3 linked regions of the Homo sapiens genome follow. Changing the gene in region 3 together with the main gene of any one other region gives a genetic interaction. Each region holds a gene or a part of one and is shown on either strand. Other genes may lie near its edges. The genes, in order: ARID1A, PTAR1 and USP8.

What was found.
Region 1: changes in USP8 (region 3) and ARID1A together harm fitness more than expected from each alone (negative genetic interaction), as found in Homo sapiens cells (one large-scale study listed by BioGRID).
Region 2: changes in USP8 (region 3) and PTAR1 are lethal when combined (synthetic lethality), as found in Homo sapiens cells (one study listed by BioGRID).

What each region holds. Positions count from the first base shown.
Region 1 is NC_000001.11:26,768,911-26,772,566, reverse strand, and holds part of ARID1A (AT-rich interactive domain-containing protein 1A), read right to left. Parts: intron 1,449-3,656; coding exon 1,241-1,448; intron 68-1,240; coding exon 1-67. UniProt on the Homo sapiens protein: Involved in transcriptional activation and repression of select genes by chromatin remodeling (alteration of DNA-nucleosome topology).
Region 2 is NC_000009.12:69,749,954-69,753,609, reverse strand, and holds part of PTAR1 (protein prenyltransferase alpha subunit repeat-containing protein 1), read left to right. Parts: intron 1-2,659; coding exon 2,660-2,829; intron 2,830-3,656.
Region 3 is NC_000015.10:50,479,782-50,483,437, reverse strand, and holds part of USP8 (ubiquitin carboxyl-terminal hydrolase 8), read right to left. Parts: intron 1,958-3,656; coding exon 1,373-1,957; intron 1-1,372. UniProt on the Homo sapiens protein: Hydrolase that can remove conjugated ubiquitin from proteins and therefore plays an important regulatory role at the level of protein turnover by preventing degradation. Converts both 'Lys-48' an 'Lys-63'-linked ubiquitin chains.

The sequences.
Region 1 (3,656 bases), on a different chromosome or scaffold from region 3:
CCTCCTTCTGCCATGGAACTGCTGGTTGACTGGGGAGTCTGGGGCCCCTGCATAGATCCTGATCCCGCTGTGGACAGAGATACAAGTTGAGTAGTTTGCTTGGCATGACAGTGTTTAACTCTCACACAAACACACGAACGACCCAGAATCTCTTTGGGAAAGTTCTTCCTAAGGCCTTTAAAGCCTGATCACCCTTCTTAGCAGAGGATCTACAAGGCCAGGTCATAAAGACGGGAATCTGAGGGTTTTGTAGCTCTTTGTTTTTGTTTTACGTGTAGAAAAGAGGAGTGATGTGGCCATGACATCACCATGCTGGTGATTCCCTGAGTCATTGCCAGCTTCCCTGGCTATTTCTCTTCACTCCGCCAAAGGACCTTGTCTAACCTACTAAACCCTGTAATGCTGGTGCATGAGCTCCAGTCAGAGCCTCCCAAGTCCTGGGTGGGAAGGGGGTCCCAAATCTGGGATGCATTTTAGGAGTCTAGGAGCTCCTGTTCTAAAGCATCCAGCATGGTGTCACTCCTCAACTTCAAATGTTCTTCTAAGCTGATGAGTACAAAACTACTAGTAATTAATGTTTCCAATAGTTACCATTCCCAGCAGTAGATATCCCACTGCTGAGGCCTCCCCAGCTGATGAGTCATCTCAGGCACTCATTACACCCTCAGAGGTCAACACCAGGGCACATGTGTTTACACCCACCTTCCAGGCACCCTGGCCTTCTTCCCTCTCTAGGCTCACCCTAGGCCTCAGCCTCCTCTCAGAAAGGAGGGTGAGCAGAGCCACTCCCATCAGGGAGTTCCATTCATAACCCTTCCCCACTCCCTCCTTCCCATTCATTACCATCTCAGCTCCCTGGGGAATTCAGGGCTCTAGTCTGAGCTGCATTCTAAGGTGCTGACATCAATAGGCCAAAGCTCCCAGATGGCCCTGCCTTGCTGCCATTTATAAGTTCCACCGACTCCTCTTGTGCCCCTCCCATTCACCAGTTTACAAACATTTGGCAAGTTGTCAGCTGCACAACAAAAATTAAAACTTAAGAGCTGCCGTAGAGTACCTCCCAAGGGAGTTTCCACTGCCCACTCTCTAGTCAGCCAACCTGTTAAGCCCTGTGGTAGGGCAAGGCAGAGCACAGATCCTTGGCATATCCTGTTGGATAAGCCTCTTATTCATATCCTGAATAAGAGGCCAGGGCAACAGGCCCTCTCAGCCTTGGTGGGGCCGCTGACCCCATCCTTACCAGGAGAGGGAGGCTGGATCTTGGGCTGGGACTTCTTGGAATCAGCAGCTGCAAAGATGTCTGGGGGAGGGTCTTCTCCCCGTTCAATCTTGCATTCAAAGGCATAGAGACACTGGATATACTGCTTTTTCAAGGAGCTGGCAGCACTGCTTGATGTGCCCACATTGAGGTTGGTTGCAAGTTCCCGCCATTTTTTGTTCTTGTTGACCTGTATAACCAAACCAAAGGAGTCGAGGTATATCTCCCGCCTGGTTTTCCTGCCCATAAGCCCCAAGCCCCATCAGGCTGTAAGGTATTCATCTTTGTAGAACCACAGTTCTTAGGTAATTGAAAAAGTTAATCTTGCTTGGTGGATAGTCCACAAGAAGTGTTAAATCTGCAGCTGGCTTCATTTTACCCTCAGGATGTTCCACTGCAACTATCAGACTGTGCTTATTCACAACAGGGCAAATTTCACATTACTACTGGAACAGAATTCAGAGTCCGGTTTTTTAGTACGCTGCTAAAAAGTGGTGTACAAATCATCTGGATATCTAAATCCTATTTTATTTATTTATTTTTGAGACAGAAAAAATAAATCTCGCTCTGTCGCCTAGGCTGGAGTGCAGTGGCGTGATCTTGGCTCGCTGTAACCTCTGCCTCCCGGGCTCAAGCGATTCTCTTATCTCAGCCTCCCGAGTAGCTGGGATTACAGGTGTGCACCACCACGCCTGGCTAATTTTTGTATTTTTAGTAGAGACGGGGTTTCACCATGTTGATCAGGCTGGTCTCAAACTCCTGGCGTCAAGTCATCTACCCGCCTCAGCCTCCCAAAGTGTTGGGATTACAGGCGTGAGCCACCGCGCCTGGCCCTAAATCCTATTTTAGATGCACTAATAAAAACTAACATTTTATAAAATGGAGACTCATGATAATATCAGTGACCACCCTGCTTGACTTGCTTTGTCAAACTTGGGATTTACTCATATTTTTTTCTTGGGGTGGTGGCTCCCTGCAAATTTGACATTCTTGTGCCACTGCTCCCCTACATATCTCATTGACAAATAACCACAGGTCCCTTTCCCTTACCAGTCACTGTCCTGATGGTCCGGGTGTTCAGGGTCTTATTTATTTAGAGACAGAGTCTCACTCTGTCACCCAGGCTCGAGTGTAGTGACGCCATTTCGGCTCACTGCAACCTCCGCCTCCCGTGTTCAAGTGATTCTCCTGCCTTAGCCTCCCAAGTAGTGGGACCACAGGTGCCTGTCACCACACCCCACTGATTTTTATATTTTTAGTAGAGACAAGGTTTGGCCATGTTGGCCAGGCTGGTCTCAAACTCCTGACCTCAGATGATCCGCCCGTCTCGGCCTCCCAAAGTGCTGGGATTACAGGTGTGAGCCACTGCGCCTGGCCCGGGGCCTTATTATGACTTTTGTACCTCCCGAGCAGCCAACCTACAGTTCTGCCTCCTTCCCTCAGCTTCAGGGCACACTGACCAAGCCCATTCCCCAGATGCTCCCTACAATTAGTCTTTCTGCTCTAGCTGGACAGGTCTCCTTCTTCATGTATTCTTATGCTTATTCATCTACCATATGGTAAGCCTGTTCCCCCAAGGCCTGGGAACAAGGGTTTTCAAGTCCCTATACACAAAGGAAGTTCAATAGGTTGTAATGTCTGCTGATATGATACCTATGATACTAGAAAGAAGAGTTTAAAGAGGCACAGAGGGGGACAACCTAGAGGGGCAGAGGTGACTAGGAATACTTCTTAGAGTGGGTAACACCTGAGCTAAGTCTTCATGGTTGGAGATGGCCTTGGTGGGAAATATCTAGACTCTCTCCCATCTCCGTGGCATCTAGGCCAGTCTACTGGATTGGCCACTCTTCCACCTAAACCCTACTAATCCTTTAGATAAGCTCAAGATTCAGCTTTGCTTTCTTGGAGCCTTCACAAACTAACTTATAAATAGCACTCTTTTGCCCCTGAATTATCACTGCCTTTATAAAAGTTCAGTTACAATCACGGCATTTTAAAGGTTTGCATCCTTTTCCAATCTGGAAGACAGGCTCAGGCATTAGAATTCTCTCTGTACCTCATCCTAGGTTCAGTGAACCCTGAAGCCCACCCAATCAGAAGTGAGCGAAACCTAACCCAATGCTCCCTTTCCCTATAGACAGGGAAGGCTTGACTATGAGATCTGAGTATCAGGGAGAATGGCAGGAATATGCATGGAGTCACCTCAAAAGCCTTCCGTGGCTTTGCTTCTCATGCCAGTTATGTGGCAGTATGCACGTGTCTTATTTTGTTTTGTTTTCCTTTGTGGGGGAGGGGAATAAAGCCTGAAGGGAGAAGGAATTCATAACTGACTGTTGGCTGGCTTCATTCCAACCACTTTCTTTTCTGCTGGTGACAGCTGTTTTCCTCTTCTGATTTA
Region 2 (3,656 bases), on a different chromosome or scaffold from region 3:
ACTGGAGGTATAATACAATTCTACCATTTTACAAATGAGGAAACTGAAGTCTACAGAAGCCAAAATGACCTGATACTGATATGTATGTATATGTGTGTGTGTATATATCTATTTCCATCCAGGACTTGGACACATGCTGTTTTCAGTATACTTTATTAGGAGAAAATCAGAGATAATGTTCTTTTAGAGGGACAAGAAGTGAAAACTATTAATTTGAATATTATCACTAAAGTACCAGGATAATCAGCCTTTCAGGAAGCAGCTATTGGGCACCTGCTATATCCAAGCCATTCTTATTTTATAAAGTATTTCTTGAAAGAACAGACAGTCAAAGCAGTGTGTTTTTTAATTGTGCAGATGGCTCTTTTCTGTAGTTTAGATACCAAATTATTAGCTGGGCATTTTAATCCTAGTTTAATTAGTGAGCAAGACAGGTTTTTATATTGTGAATTTAAGTTTAAAAAAAAAATCCCCCCCAAAAACAAACCATACCCAGAAACAGGATTCTTTTATTCTTGTTACTATAACAGTTATATTGTTGACTCTTGCAGTTCTTTGAAGTGTTGTAAGTAGGTTATTATATCTCAGAGAACAGAATTTCCTGAAATAATCACATTGAGTTTATTTACTTATTTAGTTTTACTTTATTTTTTAATATTCTTCATGTAGTAAAACACAAACATCAGAAAATACCAGAGATTCAGTCATATATTAGTCAAGTATAGCTAGATATGGCTAGGGGTCATAATAATGAATTAGATAGATTTCAGGATACTACCAAATAGAGATGCACAAAATATATTTTGAAATACTGGGCATTGACCTCAGGTGCTCTTTCAGCTTTGTCCTTATTCTTCCTACAGGACTTTGTTTATATTATTGGAGTAGTAAAGTGGTAACATTTTATTATGGATATTGACACAGATCCCCAGCAAGACTTTAGCTCTTTGAAGTCTGAGACCACTTTGCTTTATTCTTTTTGAATTTTAGAACCTAAGAAAGCACCCAGTACATTGTAGTTAATCAGAAAACTTATGATAGTATTGATATAGTATATCAAAACACCTTTGAGTCAACGGAACCAATTGTAAGGATAAAAACCCATAGATCCCACAGTCTTCTTGAGAGTTAAATTAGCTTGAAAGAATTGTTAGTGTCTTGCAACCCCTAAGATATCCTTTTTATTGATAAATCCCTGTGCCACTAATGAAGTGATCAGTAGAAAGTAGATTACCTCTAAGCTATTCAGTTTAGTTTCCAGGAGGGGTTTTATTTTAAATCCACAGCCTCCTACCAATTTGTGATAGTGGCCCAACAAAAAGACAGGGTGTTTCTCCTACTTTGTAATTCAACCAATTTCCCTCTTTTGGGTCTATCAAACCACTGTGTTCTTGGTAAGGGGATGCCAGGGACATAATACATAATGTCACACACAAACTCTGAAAACCAGTTCATTATTCTGCTTTTTAAAGACATGTTTAAAATATCTATATAGACACTCTAAAAACATTTATTTCAACTACTCTTATTGTTAAAAAGTTTCTTGTTATTCATTAATTAAACAGAGGACATTCTGTTTGAGAAAGGATCCTTTGTGTAGGCAAGAATTATAACTTCCTTTAGAGTTGAAAGGCATGTGAATGTGTTTTGCACAAATTTTTTACGTTTGCTGGTTCATTTACTAAGTAAGTCAAATGCCCTACATATTGTTTATTAAATCTCTGCCTTTAATGTAAATTTTCAGCTTAAGTTGAGGTGGATTGAGGGATATAGATGCTACCACAGAGGAAAATTATTGAATTCTGAAATGTATTTTGTGTTTTAACATTTATTTGGGTGGTTTTTTAATTCAGGAAAATATAAAGAAGAAAAAATGGCCCAAAATCTCACTGATAAAATAACGTTTTTTGATACTTTGTTTCTGGTCCACATGCATTTATTAGCAAGCAAGCATAAACACATTTGTTGACATTAAAAAAATAGAAATACATACAATTATTAGATAATTGAAACTGTATAAAAATAAAATCCTTCCTTACCACCTTTCTCTCTCCAAAAATTTCTTGTTATCCTTCCAAGAAAATTTTTAATGCATCTATATATCTTCTAAAGAAATTATACAAAAGGATTTGTGCTGTACACTGTGTTCAGCATTTTGCTTTTTGTTTTCATTTCATATATCTTGGCAACTTTTTTTATGTCAGCATATGCAGATCTACCTCATTGTTTTTTAATGGCTTGATTATGTGGATGGGCCTTTTTTTTTTACTAGTCTTATATTGATAAACATTTAGATTGTTTCTAGTTTTGTTGCAACATTGCAGTGAACATCTGATTCACATATTTTGGCATAGGATAATTTCTGAGCAGTTGAATTGCTGGATCAAAGGGTATGTTCCTTCAAAATTTTGAAAGACTTTTTTTTAAGTTGCCATCCAAAGGCAAGACCAGTTTTCACTCCTGTCTACAGAGAGTACAGCATACTGGTTTTCTCATACTCTTGCCACTATTAGCATCTACCAATCCCAGTAAGTGAGCTAAATAATATTTGTAAGGAAGGGGGAAATATGTGGGGTTTTTAAAATACTCTGAAATTAGAAAAATGTTGAAAAGGTTAGTATCCTTATTTTTAATTCTTTTTTATGTTTTACATATTAAGAGATGAAATTGGCCTGATCCCATGTCCTGAAGCTAGGTATAACCGGAGTCCCATAGTCCTGGTTGAAAACAAACTGGGTGTGGAGAGCTGGTGTGTCAAGTTCCTTTTACCATATGTCCACAACAAGCTCCTTTTGTACAGAACAAGAAAGCAATGGCTGAACAGAGATGGTAAGTATGAATCATATTTTCTTCATTTGGTTTTTAGAAGCGACATGGAATATAGTAGGAAGAGCCCTTCTCTGAGTGTCAGCATTCCTGGATTCTAGTTCTGCTTCTTCTGTTCACTGTCTCGGTGGGTGCTAACCTTTCTGTCAAGTGAGTAGTTTCTACTCACCTGGACAAATTTTACAACCACAGTGATTATATAGAAGCCCTCAAGCAGAATTTCAGGGCACCTCCTGTAACCAGAGCAGTTCAGATTTTATCAGTTTATGTATTGGGGTCATTGGTAAGATTTCATTTGAAGGAAAAAAAAAAATCTGAATGTCACTGAAGAAGACTCTAGTCCCTATAGGCTCAGTCTCTGGTTTCTAATCCTTTAGTATTTTTATAGGCAGCAAAACTCATTTTCATAGTAGTCCAAATGAGATAATGTAGGCATGATAGTGGTAGTGATATTATGAACCAGCCCAGTGATTTATGGATGTGCCATTCCACTGCAAGTTCCAGTTGAGCTCTGGCCGTTTGTATCCTGTTCCTGTGCTGAAATGAGCAAAACAAAACTATCCGGCATTCACTTCTTCCATTTCTCTCAGACAGTTTTTTTTTTTACTGCATCAGACAATCCCTAATCATTCCATCTGGTCTCTTTTCTTGGTGTTCTGCCATATTAAGCCTCCATGTGCACAAATTCTGTTTATCATTGTATGCCCACCTCAGGTCTCACTTTTTGGGAGAAGACTAATTTAAGACCATGTCCTTTACTGTTTTTGTAAAGCTTCTTCCCCTTCCCATGTACGGCAGTACCTTCAAAAGCGCTCAATATGCCTGGAGGC
Region 3 (3,656 bases):
TAGTGATAATTTTAACAAAATTTATTCTAGAATAAATTACATATTTCTCCTACTTTTAAAAGGAGCACACAAAGAATGCAATCTTAGATGTGTAGGAATATTTGGCACCTATATACTAAATGACTCCACAAATATGAATGATTTAAGTTCTAAAGACTGCATGCCTCTAGTATAGCAAGATGGAAAAGAAGTGGCTTTGGAATCTCACTGTCTATGTGATCCTAGGCAAATACTTAACCTCTAAACTTCAGTTTCACTTGTAAATTAAATACCTTATGGGGTTATCATTAGGGGTAAATAAGACAATGCAGTGAAAATACTTGGCATATAGTAGCTACTCAATGAATAATACTTAAATTGTATCTTGGAGTGCACATGTTTTGCTCCTCCTGTGAATAAAATTAGAGAGTTTTAGTACATGGGCTTCATATCCCCAATTTGGGGTGTTTAGAAGGTTTTTGGATGGAAGCTATCTTTTTTAATAGCAGAGGTTACCAGATAAGTGTTCCCTGGATAAGAGCAGCTTGACTATGAATTAATTTTGGTAACATGCCTGAATTGTGTTTGAGAAGTATAGAAATTGACATTCTGTAAAGATGGTATCCCGCCTTCCATTAGAAGTCATTTCCACACTACTAAAAATGTTTTTTCCATTTATACATATGTAAAAAGGACCATAACTGTTCTTGGTATTATAAACATATACTTGGTGTTCAAAAGGAAAAGGCATTGTTAATGACATAATGAAGAAAAAAAGAAAAGCATAGCATTATTAGAGATTGAAAAAGAATAACAAAAAAAGTCCCCTAAAATTACGGCTATCAATTTTGGGTGTGTAGCCAAGGGCAAAATTAATTGGGTTATTTGCCAATATTATTTAAATAGATAAAGCAAGAAACAAAATGACACCGATCTGACCAAAAAATCACTATATGCAAAGATAAATGTTAGGCCATTTAGATGTCACTGATTTTGGATATATTCTAAACAGATATAAATTCTATCATACAAATATTAGCATCTAGTTTCCCCATACTGAGAAGGAGATTATATTTCACTCTAGTCTTCCCATGATCATACATCAAACATAAAAATGAAGAATGTAGCTATTTATCTCAATTATTTGAAATATATTGCATTTTATAGATGTAATATACAAAAAGCAATTTCATTCCCAACCAATCATTTCATAAATGTATGGCACTGGCCTCAAAGGAGAATAGATGAGCAAATGTGGATAGATCAGTACATTCTATCACCCCTGAAAAGACTATTTGAAATGCCTGCCCTTTTATGGAATGCCACTGGTGTTTTCACATTTTCATATACATTTTCTTTCACTTCGTTGGCAATTTGTACTGTTTCTGCTTACCTTGCCTGAACCTGAATCCCCTGTCACAGATGTATGGGGCACATCTCCTGTTGACTTTTTCTGTATTTCTGGGGTTGGACACCTTTTCCCCCTATCTTCTACAGATTTCTTGGCATCAGAAGTTTCATGTTCACTTTTACTTTGTCTTTTTACTCCTGTTATTTCTTTGCCCCTCTTTGCTGAGGTTTCTTTATCTTCTTTCTTGGCCTGTTCACTTTCTTTCTTCTCCATTTCTTCTTTTGCTTTTTGTTGCTTCTCTGTAATTTCATTTTCTTCAGCTTCTTGTTTCTTTTTGGCTTTTTGTTCTTGTTCTTCCTTCCTCAGTTTCTCTTTCTGTTCCTCTTGCTGCCTTTCCCGAAGTTCTTTTTCTTGTTTGTTTTTTTCCATTAGAAGAGCAGTTTCTGCATGAATACGAGCCTTTTCTTCATCTGTTAACATGAGAGTTGGAGAAAAAACTACTGGCTTGGTGGAACGATCAGGAATAACTTTTCCACTCTGAGGAGATTGTTGCTCATGGTTTGTACTTTCAGATTTTATTCTATGCTCTTCAGGCAATTTGACTGCTGGTTTTTTAGTACGATCAATCTAGAGCAACAAAACCAGAGCAAAACATTTTTGTCAAAAATCAGGAAATAACCTCAGTTCTTGAGATCAAGTTGTGATAAAAGAAGTGTCACTTTGTGGAGACAACATCTATCAGCACATCTATTTGTTAATTACTCAGTGTCAAGATTTCTCATAAAACAGAACTTGAATGGTAGATATTCAAACATCACTGGAACTTACATCCTCTTGATTCAACACTTTCAATTCTTCCTGAGTGTTTTGTATACAAAAGAGTTAAAAATGTCTTTATTCTAAAACATAAAACCTAGACCTGGGCATACTTAGACTTAAGTTCCACTTCCAGGTATCCAAATGCCTACCCAATATTTCCATTTGAGTGTCAACACATGTATCTCAAACCCCATACAGCCAAAACGGATTCACGATTCCCCCCACCCCGACAAACATGGTCCTAATCTCATGGATGTAACCACTCTCACTCTCCCAATAGTTGCACAAATCAAAAACCTGAGTCCCATGATATGTTCTTCCCATATCCTTCTGCACGCTGTTAATTTTCCTCCTATATCTGTCCCTCCATCTCTTCTACCACAGGCTAAGACCATGTCAACCTCCTCTCTCACCAGGACTACAGCATAGCTTTCAACTAGTTGCCCATCTCTTCTCTTGCCCCCGCCCCCCAATCTGTTTCTCCACATTATAGCCAGAGGACTCATTTTAAAACAAATTTGATTTGCTACCCACTATGCTCTCAGTACACCTAAAATCTTTACCATAGTCTGTAATGCCCTGTATGGTCTTACATCTGCCTACCTCTCCAGTCATATGGCTGTGTATACCAGCTATACTTGCCTTAAAAAAAAAATTATTCCAAGATGCCATGCTCCTTCCCAACTTAGGTCTATCAGCTGTTCATCTAGATAATGCCCACATTAGGTCTTGGCTTACACATCTCTCCCTCTGAAAAGACTTCCCTGGTTCCTAGAACTAGCCAAGTCCCCTGATACATGCTCTTATAATACTTTATTCTTCTCTACCGGAATTCTGATCAAATAACTATAATTACTTATTTAAAATTTTTCTTCCCTCCTAGAATATAAGCTCTAAAAGGATAAAGACTGTGCCTGGCACAGTTAGTAACTATGTTACTGAGGGAACAAATGCAATCTTCCCTAAAAACTTTTACATGAGGTAAAATACTAACTAGTTTCCTTCAGGTTGTGTAATAAACTACCTAAGTTCCTGATTTAATGAGTTAAATGTTTATTACCTCAATTTAACAGCATGTTAACACTAGAGAAGTGACCCTAACATCATTTCTTGAGAATACTGTGTACTGAAAGAAAAATAAAAACTTATAAGAACATGTGCCAATAACAATCTACATAGTGTTCTTACAAAACGAATTTATGTTTTTCTACTAGAAAATAAAAGAAGTTGCCAGGCGCAGTGACTCACGCCTGTAATACCAGCACTTTGGGAGGCCGAGCCGGATAGATCACTTGAGGCCAGGAGTTCGAGACCAGCCTGGGCAACATGGCAAAACCCCATCTCTACAAAAAAAATACAAAAATTAGCTGGGCGTGGTGGCATGTGCCTATAATCCCAGCTACTCAGGAGGCTGAGGTGGGAGGATTGCTTGAACCCAGGAAGTCGAGGCTGCAGTGAGCTGTGATCACGCCACTGCACTCCAGCCTGGGTGAGAGAGTGAGACCGT